Linked DNA regions of Homo sapiens: region 1 is linked to region 2. The links come from fine-mapping of genetic effects on plasma protein levels. A gene starts in region 2. The other region holds a variant in brackets. All regions are shown on one strand. Distances are from middle to middle. Region 1 holds the start of LINC02509 (long intergenic non-protein coding RNA 2509). Region 2 holds the start of VEGFC (vascular endothelial growth factor C).

Region 1 (5,384 bases), 80 kb after region 2:
AGGTCAAATGGAATTTCTGGTTCTAGATCCTTGATGAATTGCTACTCTGTCTTCTACAATGGTTGAACTAATAATATACATTCCCACCAACAGTGTAAAAGTGTTCCTATTTCTCCACATCCTTGCCAGCATCTGTTGTTTCCTAACTTTTTAATGACTGCCATTCTAACTGGCATGAGATGGTACCTCATTGCAGTTTTGATTTGCATTTCTCTAATGACCAGTGATGAAGAGCTTTTTTTCATGTTTATTGGCCACATAAATGTCTTCTTTTAAGAAATGTCTGTTCATGTCCTTCACCCACTTTTTGATGGGGTTGTTTGTTTTCTTGTAAATTTGTTTAAGTTCCCTGTAGAGTCCGGATATTAGACCTTTGTCAGATGGATAGATTGCAAAAATTTTCTCCCATTCTCTATGTTGCCTGTTCATGCTGATGATAGTTTCTTTTGCTCTGCAGAAGCTCTCTAGTTTAATTAGATCCCATTTGTCAATTTTGGCTTTTGTTGCAATTGCTTTTGGTGTTTTAGTCATGAAGTCTTTGCCCATGCCTATGTCCTGAATGGTATTGCCTAGGTTTTCTTCTAGGGTTTTTGTGGCTTTAGGTTTTATGTTTAAGTCTCAAATGAATCTTGAGTTAATTTTTGTATAAGTGTATGGAACAGGTCCAGTATATGATTTCTGCATATGGCTAGCCAGTTTTCCCACCACCATTTATTAAGTAGGGAATCCTTTCCCCATTGCTTGTTTTTGTTAGGTTTGTCGAAGATCAGATGATTGTAGATGTGTGGTGTTATTTCTGAGGCCTCTGTTCTGTTCCATTGGTGTATATATCTGTTTTGGTACCAGCACCATGCTGTTTTAGTTACTGTAGCCTTGTAGTATAGTTTGAAGTCAGGTAGCATGATGCCTCCAGCTTTGTTCTTTTTGTTTAGGATTGTCTTGACTATACCCCTAAAACATCGTGAACCACTCTAAATATACAGCTTTCAAATAAATTTCACATTTCTTCCAAGTAGAGCTCACTGGTAACATTAAAAACTCAAATTTATACTCAAAAGACACTGGGGATAGGGGAACAAAAGGAATAAGAGCCAAATTGTTACTGATTTTCAACAGGTACATTTGAAAGAAACAGGGTTAGAGTTGTTATTAGGGCAGTAGTGATTAGATTGCACAAATAACTGGGCAATGTCAATTCTCGGTATTCTGTGTTACCATTTCAGTTCTCAGTTTTCTGTTTGAAAAAGGACTTAAATTTTTCTTCAGCTGATTTTAGTTGAACATCCCCACTAAATATGGTAGAATGTGAAAGGCTATTTTTAAATGTAATAAACCATAAAAAATGCTTATGGTCTCAGAAATTCTGCTTGTCCTCTTAATGATGCACACGTTGGACTGTGAGCTTGTGGTAGAATGGAGTTAGACTTTTGATAAAGGTCAAAATGTTAATAGGACTTTTATTTTGTTTCTTTGTAATCCACTCTAAGGTTTCTAAAACTCAAAACTCTATAATTAAATTTATCTATTGAAATTCTAAATTTTTGTCGATCGTCATGATTCATAGATATTCTTACACGAAAACAAACAAAAAAGACTCCAAACAATGCAAAACAAAATATTAAAGCACAAAAGAAGTAATTAGACTAAAAATGGTACGTTAACTTTGATTACTGATACCACCGGGAAAATACCTACTTAAACCTTCTAAGCAGACCTCAGAAGACACTCTGTAATCTAATGAAAATTAGTTTTATAAAGTCAACAGGAGTCCTATTATAAAATAGAAATGTATGAACAACAGAGTCCACCATCTTGGCTGTTGTCTTGAAGTCATCTACAACGATGAGCCCTTCACGATGTTTTTCTGAATGTTCTCTACTGGACTTCCATTCAGAAATAAAAGATTTGGCAGATGGAATATTTTCATTCTTAATTTAATAAACTATATGTCAGAATTTTTGTTGTGTGATGCCTTTTGCCATTTTTAGTAGATAGTAGCAGCTGTAGAATTAATTAATGTGTACTTACTTCTGAGCCAAAATATGAAAAACAGAAATGATAACCCCTAAATTCTCTTACTTTGCCAAATGGAGTATCTAGAACCATGCCAAAAGTGAATGTTGAGAGAAAAAAAAAAAGAGAATAAAAGCTCTCTAAGCAGCTGAAATATTTATCGAAAGGCCATTATGCTATGTCTTTCTGCTCTTCTCCGAGAATCTATCAGACAAATGGTTGGATAATAGTGCAGACTTTAGTTGACTTCCTGGTCCACAGAAAGTAAGTCCCACAGTCACATAACGAAAGCAGGGAAGTAGGAGGTGTTAGGGAATGTATGACTGTAGTGTGGCTAGGGGAGGGGAGGCAATTCATAGTCTGAGAACAAGGGGAAAAAATTAGAAACAAATTTAATTTTATAATTGGATTTAAGAACCACAAACCCAAAACAGTTTGGAGCTCCTTAATACAAGTTAAAAATACCCTAGTGGTATTGAAAGTAGCACAGAATACAA[T/A]TTATGTTATAATGATGTTCCTGGTTTATTCTAAAATTTGACCATATTTAATATTTCTGTTTAACCACGAGAGAAACGGTCAATGCTAATGATTCATACCCTGAGAATCAGTCACCTATTGATGGAAATAGCCAACTTGGGAGAGAGACAGACTAGATTTTACTTTAAAGTCAGCTATATTTTATATCAGTGCCCTCCAATAAATAATTTATTTTTCTTTTCCCTGCCTTCCCCGCCTTCTCTGCCTTCCCTGCCTTCCCTTTCTTCCTTTTCTTTCTTTCCTTCTTTTTCTTTTCTTTTTCTTTCTTTCTTTCTCTTTCTTTCTCTCTCCCCTTCCTTCCTTCCTTCCTTCCTTCCTTCCTTCCTTCCTTCCTTCCTTCCTTCCTTTCTTTCTTTCTTCCTTCCTTCCTTCTCTTTCTTTCTTTTTCTTTCTTTCAACTGGGTCTCTTTCTGTCACCCAGCCTGGACTGCAGTGGCACAATCTCAGCTCACTGCAACCTCCAGCTCCAGGGTTCAAGCAATTCTCACGTGTCAGCCTCCCAAGCAGCTGGGATTATAGGCACCTGCCACCATGCTGGGCTAATTTTTGTATTTTTAGTAGAGACAGGGTTTCACCATATTGCCTAGGCTAGTCTTGGACTCCCGGCCTAAGTGATCTTCCCACATCGGCCTCCCAAAGTGCCAGGATTACAGGTGTGAGCCACCATGCCTGGCCATATACGTAATTTATAATAGACACATTAAGTAAAATGAAGTAAGTGAAATTACTTTGAATAATATATTTTCTTTAATTTAATATATGCCAAATTTTATATGAATATATAATCAATATTTTAAAATATTTATGAAGTGTTTTACAATATTTTGGTATTGAATCTTTGAATCTAATGTATGTTTACACTTACAACAAAAGTATCTCAATTTTGGTACTAAATTATCACCTGAAATGTTTGATCTGTTCTTAGACTATATAAAATTTACTGTTGAAAATGTAACTATGTGCCCAAATTCATCCAAACACGCTTAAAATTTTCTAATAACTGATGCAAGCATTAGTTTTTAAATAAAATTTAAGGCAAGTAAACTTAAATAATATCAAAAATTCAGTTCTTGGGTTGCACTAGCCACATTTCCAGTACCCAATAGCCACATGTGGCTAGCACTGCAGTCTTTGATGGTGCTGTCCTGTGTGGATGTCTTTGGACAAGATTCTACAGCCCCAGTAAAAATGGGATAGCAAAACCAAAGAGTCAAGGTTTTGAATAGTTAGACATAATATTTAAAAAGAGTCTATCATATACTCATGACTCAATGAATAAGGAATAAATATTTTCATACAAAATCATTAAAAAATGTTAAGAAAATGAGTTTTAGATTTAAATAAAATTCATTTACCTGGGATACATTGCCCAGTGAGACCTGATTAATAAGATCTTAATGGATAAAATAAATGTCAGGTGATACTGAAAAAGATGTGTGAATGTACATGAGAAACTGACAGAGGAGGTGAATATTTGGAGTAATATTCAGAAGGTCGCTAGATGGTTTAATTTTCTTTTTTGGAAACTTCAATTTCAAGGGAGCAGTAAAAGGTAATCTTTAAAAAATAAAATTATTAAGCAGAGATAAGACACTATCTGATTAATAATTAACTTTGTAAAAAGGGGCAATATTTTATCCTGCCTTTCTACTAGGAAACTGTATAATTAAAACCACACTATATGCTATTATGTATGGCAATTTTAAGATTATATCTCTGGACATATACATAATAAGCAAGTTATTTTCAGTGCTCTCATACAGACATGGCGCTTAACTACTGAATGGTGGAAATTTTGTTTTAAATTATTTAAAATTATATTTAACAGAGGTTGCATATAATTCAATTGTAAACTTGCTTCTTACATAACTTTACCGTTTCTTCTTTTAGCTTTAGTGTAAAATTAGGCAAGGCAGAAACTCACATTATGGAAGTTCCCCTGAGAAAAGTAGTTTTCTAAAAGTATTTCTCTTTGTTTTCTTGTTCCCAATAGCGAAACGTTTTTGTAAATAATGGCCGAAAACATCACGTAAGATTTGCAGTATTTAATTCCCTTGAGATTAAAAGAATATTTTCCTTTAAATTAGTGGTAAGTTTTATCACCTTACATATACACAGATTCCTAGATAAATCCATTGTATGATTTTCAAAATACATCTTTCTGATATATTTTTATATTTGATCCATACCTCATTTTTTTTTTCCGGGCCTGCAGGGCCTGTACTATTACTGTGGTTTTCTAGATGAGTAAAATCAGGCATAGTGAGGTTAAGTGACTTACCCACGGTGGCTTGTTGACAATAGGGCTAGAGCCAGAACCCAAGCTGAGAAGCCAGTATTTTATCCGCAATTCCTTAGAGCTAAGTTACAAAGTATTTTTAGTATTTCCACTCGCTCCATGTCATTTAAGCCAACAAATAATGATTTACATAAGGCGATAAAATAATGTATTCTACAGAGACAGCAGGGCTTGGATAGTTTTGGAGAAAGAAACAAAATCTCTTAAAAACTGACCTCATTGTTTGAGCTTCTTTCCAGGAAACTTTTCTACATGTACTAATTTTCTTGACCAGGTTCATAAAGCCCTGACAAGTTTATATTCTCTGTATTATTTTTCTTCTGAACCTTCTGGGGCAGTAAGAGAGCAATGATGCTTGCTGCAAACATAGGCTTTAGAATCTGACAGAGATCACCTCCCTCTGACCTCAGTAACACTGGCCCCTGCTCAGGGCCTCAGGCCTTTGTGACTCAAATGCAATTAGAGATTGAGAAGCACTTCCATCTGTGTGCATGTGGCCACTTGTGATGCAAGACAGAGGCAGGACTGAGAAGAC
Region 2 (5,384 bases):
GCTTATCAGGGAATGTTTCTCATTTTACTCTCTACTGCACATTTTCTTACTGTAAACCAAAGTAAGTGACCGTAACCAATACAGAGATGTTGCCTTACTAAATCATACTTTTACTAGTTTTGACTTTGCAGAAATAGCAAATAGGTACTGCAAAATCAAGGACTCAAATTATCAGAAGCGTTATTGAGCCGATTATTACATTTCTGCGGTATTTAAGAACAGAAAGATATTTTCATCACTATAGTTACGGCAATGTAAGTATAGGCACTGAAAATTATTTTTGTGATTCACAGAATGCAGTCTGTTCTATTTCATGTATATTGTTTTTACTCAAGAGGCATTCCTTTAACCCCTATATTAAATTATTACACATTCCAACATTTTAATGTTTTCCCAAAATTTAAATGCAAAGGTAGTTTGATTTCCAAAAATTAGTCTTCTCAATCTTTAAGTGTATTTCAAAATATAAATATAAATAAAATATTTCAAAATATAAGGCTATTTTCTACACATTGTGTATGTGTTAATCAACAGTCAAATTAAAGTTGACTGTAACACACCACAGGTACCTCTCCACTTGCCACCAGTTGAAATAAACTACCGCAGTATAGTTCCAGCAAGGGGTACTGCAAGTGTTTGAACTGAAATGTCGAATATAACTTCTTTAGGAACTCTCTTAAGCATACTCTATATGGTTATGGCAGGTATGAACTTTTTAGATAAAGATATACTCTTTTGGAAGAGCCAGTAAGAAGTAGGAACACACACAAATCCTTTTTCAAAATCAGGATGCCTCAAAAGTATTTTGGCAACATTTTCAGGCAAAGGATTAAACACCTCTTATTTAAAAGAAAACAAAACAAACAAAAAACCCAAACAAGAAAAAAAAAAACTTAGTTTGCAGTATCTCATGACCAGATTTTAGGAATGAAGAGCTTATAAAGTTGAAACAAGCCTTGCATTGCTTGATTGTGATCTAACTGACTCTAATCTCCCGTTACATCTCAAGTCTGACCAACTTCAAGTGAACTCTGAAAGCTCTGGAGCCTGGTTACTAAAGTCCCTGACACTTTTTTTCTAAAGTCGCTCACAGCGCCTGGTGCTCTGCAGACTATGAACACTCCAGGAAAGTAAGGCTGGGTTGACTGATCACCAGTGTCCCAGAATCTGTTTGGAGTCCCATGAATCAGCTGGGGAAAGAAACGAGCATTTCCCGACCAAAATGAACTCATACTCTCCAGAGCCCCGCTGACTGGGCAGGGTTCAAGACCCCTTGGTTGCCCCAGAGGAAACCAGTCTGAAATAGATTTCGGGATCTCTCACTGGGCACCTCTCCGGGCCCTTCACTCGTGTAACTTGCTTGCCTCTCTAGTAACAACTTTCTATTTAAAAAGAAGAAGATTTTTCTCCAAAGCAGCGTGCACTGAGCTCAGTAACTTTGGATCCCACGTACACAAGCTTAAAGCACACACACTTTCCCCCGCGCAGGTTCTCGGGTCCGCCGCAGACCCTAACGCAAACTCTCGGGTTCTCCGCAAACCCTAACGCAGACCTACCGTGGCCTCGCCCGCGTCGGGCTCCGCGTCCGAGAGGTCGAGTCCGGACTCGAAGGCGGCGGCGGCGGCGGGCGCCTCGCGAGGACCCGGGAGCAGCGCAGCGGCGAGCAGAGAACACGCCACAGAGAAGAAGCCCAGCAAGTGCATGGTGGAAGGACCGGGGGTGGGGGACCGGTCCGCTGGCGGGGGCAGGGGTGGGGGCGCGGGCGCCCCTGCGAGGCCGCGGGCCCCTCCTGGTCCCTCTCCCCCGGGCTCCTCCCGGCGACCCCCCCTGGGCGAGCCGGAGGCGGCGGGAGCGGGTCCGGGGCTCCGCGTTCCCAACTTTGCAGGGCGCCCTCCCAGCCAGTGCCGGGGAAAGGCGGCGGGTGTCAGGTAAAAGCCTCACAGGAAACCGGACATCCGAGCTCCCCGCATTCGGAGCCCGCGAGGTGAAGCGAGGGCGAGGGAGGACGCCGCCGCGGTCCGCGTCGGTGTAGCTTTTTGGAGAGGCGGGGCGGGGGACACCAGAACACCCCGCGATGTTCAGCCCCTCCAAACCCGCCAGAGCCCTCGTCCCCCTCCTCCCTCCCCTTCCCCGAAGTGAGAGGAGCCGGGCCGCGGGCGCTGCGGCGGGGGCGCTGGCGGCGGTGCCGGGGGCGGGAGGAGGGCGGCGGGGCGGCTGGCGGCGGCGGGGCCCGGGAGCGCCGCGGCGCAGGATCCTCCAGAGCGCGCCGGGCTGAGCGGCGGCGGCGGCGGCGGCGGGCGCAGGGGCAGGGCATGACTGACGCGCCCTCTGCCTGCGCTTATGTGAGAGAAAGCGGCCGAGGGAGGGAGCGTGCCGAGCCCGGGCTGCCCTCCCCTCTCACTCTCCCTCGGAAGCCGTCTCCCTGGAGCTCCCCGTTTCCCTCGCCTCCTCCCCGGCGGCCCCACCTCCCCCGGCCCCCCTCTGGATCTCTCCCTCCCCGCCCCTGTCCCCTGCGGGGAGCGGGCGGCCGGAGGGGCAAGTTCAGTCCCGGGGCTGGCGGTTGGCGGGACCGGCTTTAGAGGTGATGCGACCACCCTGGACCACGTGCAGCGGGGAGAAACTGGGCACCGTGGGGTGGAGGGAGCCCCCGCTTTATCCTCGGCCACTCCCGAGTTCTTGTCCTCCCTCCCGCACGCCTGGCCCCCAGAGCCCTGCTCAAAGTTTGGAAATGTCCTGGGGGTTGTAAAAGTTCCAAGAAAAGGTCATCACTATGTCAGAGAACCCTATGGGACCTCGGAGGGGTCCCCTCTCTCCCTTGGTCTGTGTAGTTGAAAGTTGCCTGATGATCCAAGAACCGCAGTTCTCAGGATGCAGTGCAGGCTGTTGGGATGGATGCTAATGATCCCTTTGGAATCCTAAACTTCTGACAGGTGAAGAGAAGGGCCAGAATCTTCGTGGAGAGTAAAGAGACACATTGTCAGCTTCTGCAAGAAGTTGGTTTACTTGAAAAAGGGGGTGATAAAGAGAGATGTGTGTGAGACATATTCCAGAAAGGATGTGTAGCATCCAAAGAAAAGTGACTGCATTTCCCCATTGGAAAAGCACTGGGGTTTCCGTTGGGCTGGTGGCATTGGCTAGCTGCCTCCTTGGGGCAGGGTGAGCAGGTTACAGAGGACCACGCTAAGGGGTTTCAACAGTGTACAGAACATCAAAAGTCTGCCTTTCACTCCCAATCTACTTTTAAGTACACAGATGTTATAGGTCCATAATATCTTACCGGAAGAAGAGACTTTCTTATCTGGTTCAACTCTAGATTTGAAACTCCTCACCCATAATTTACTTGAAGGCTTAAATATCTCAAAGGACAGGGAACCTTCCATTCTGTGTGGCTGTTCACTCCCTTTATTGATGAGCAACACTGCTGAAAAGCATTTCCTTCTATCTCTCTATTGCTTTTGACTCCTGGAGTTTTACACAATAAATCTAATCTCACTTCCACAACTGAGTCCTTCAAATATTTTGAAAATATTTATCATGGTCTCCCTAAGCTAACTTTACTCCTGGCTAAATATCCCTTTTATTCCCCAAGATGACAGTTCCAGTTTCCCCCCTTAACCATACTGTTAGCTTTCCATGTTCATGAAGTATGCGGTTGAGAACATGGCTCGGTACTTAGTGCTGTAATGAGCATGCAGAATGGACAGTATGCCTTTGTTGATACAGCCTTGGATTGAGTTTATTTTCTGGCAGCCAAATCACAGTGTTGACTCACACTACCCTTAAAGTCAACAAAATTCCTCAATAATTTTTCATATGTACTGCTACTTAGTCACGTCTAAATTCCCCTGTATTTGTGGAGTTAAGTTTACTGTATCCAAGATGCTTTTTTATGTATCTTTATGAAATTCCATCCCATCAGACTCGGTCCATGATCTAGCCTGTTGAGATGTTTTGTGATTTGGAACATGGTCAGTGTATCACTCTCTTGCTGTCTTCCTGCTCTATGCATATTTGATCAGCCTGCCATAGTTATCTTCAGACATTGATAGATCTGTGAAAAGGGAACAGCTAAGGGCAGACTGGGGTAGGATTTGAATAGAAGGTGGAGTTTCCATTCAACCATTTGCTATTACAATGATTCTAAACTTTGATTGCACTTGGCATCACAAAAGGAGATTTTGAAAAAACAGATGCTTGAGTACACCTTCTGCCTTTCTGGCTTAACTGGTCTAACTGGAGTAAGGCTTGGACATCAGGATTCTAATAGGCAAACAAAATTGAGAACCACAGGCATTTCCAACACCCACAGGCCTAGCAGCGGGTGAAGACTGGAAAATCAACAAACTCAAAATATATCCAAAATATATTAATATCATATTAACTACTGTTTCATTTAAATACAGCAGTAAGCTGTATTCAAACTTTTTTCTCACAAAAGTGTTATCTTCCTGCTGCTATACTTTGAGTCAGAAAATGCTGGCAAAAAGTTTATTTGAATAAAAAAAAGGTCTCCAAAAACAATCATGCAGTAGTTGTTTGTCTTAAGGTTGGTCGGGCACGGTGGCTCACGCCTGTAATCCCAGCACTTTGGGAGGCCGAGGCGGGTGGATCATGAGGTCAGGAGATCGAGACCATCCTAGCTAACACCGTCCATCTTAGGGAGACCATGATAAATATTTTCAAACGTTGGTGAAACCCCGTCTCTACTTAAAACACACACACACACACACACACACACACACACACACACACACACACACACACACACACACAGAATGTCTTAAGGTAAAAACGAATAGTTGCTCAGGACTTTTTGGTTTTTTTTCTTCCTTACCCCCTGGAAACACTTTTTGCCACTAGCAGATTTTAAAGGTTGAGAAAGTCCTTTTCACTGGTTTGTGAGTTCATCACTAGCTTCATGCAAGACCTATTTTACAACAGGTCTTCTAAATCTGGTTATTCAAAAAGCATTGCTCAGTCAGTGGAGAAAGAGAGGTAGCAGGGCCCCAGCCAGAATAACACCTCTTTTACATATTGAGTTTTTGTTTTCTTTGATGATAGGTTTTGTTCTTTGTGTTTTGTGTCTGTGTGTGTGTGTGTGTGTGTGTGTGTGTGTGTGTTTGTTTGTTTGAGATGGAGTCTCGCTCTGTCTCCCATGCTGGAGTGCAGTTAGAGTACAGTGGCACCATGTCAGCTCACTGCAACCCCTGGGTTCAAGCTATTCTCCTGCCTCAGCCTCCCAAGTAGATATGGGAGATGATAGTTTTGGATGGCAAAATAATGATGATAATATATCCATTGTACATTCTCTAATATCCATTCTGACCATCTACTTTATTTCTCATTTGTTATTCCCTACCTTCTTGCTTTGTTAGTTTTACTTT

Evidence for each region. PIP is the posterior inclusion probability: the model's chance that the variant is causal. Sun 2018 read protein levels with aptamers (SomaScan).
Region 1: its variant is fine-mapped to the plasma level of the VEGFC protein (Sun 2018, PIP 0.95).

Annotation. Positions count from the first base shown.
Region 1 is chr4:176,870,345-176,875,728 of GRCh38, forward strand. It overlaps LINC02509 (long intergenic non-protein coding RNA 2509), which reads left to right and starts at 5,358. Exons shown (of 2, transcript NR_149104.1): 1 at 5,358-5,384. The variant T/A (reference allele first, on the strand shown) is at 2,511.
Region 2 is chr4:176,790,609-176,795,992 of GRCh38, forward strand. VEGFC (vascular endothelial growth factor C) reads right to left here and starts at 2,314. Exons shown (of 7, transcript NM_005429.5): 1 at 1,557-2,314. The coding sequence starts at 1,703.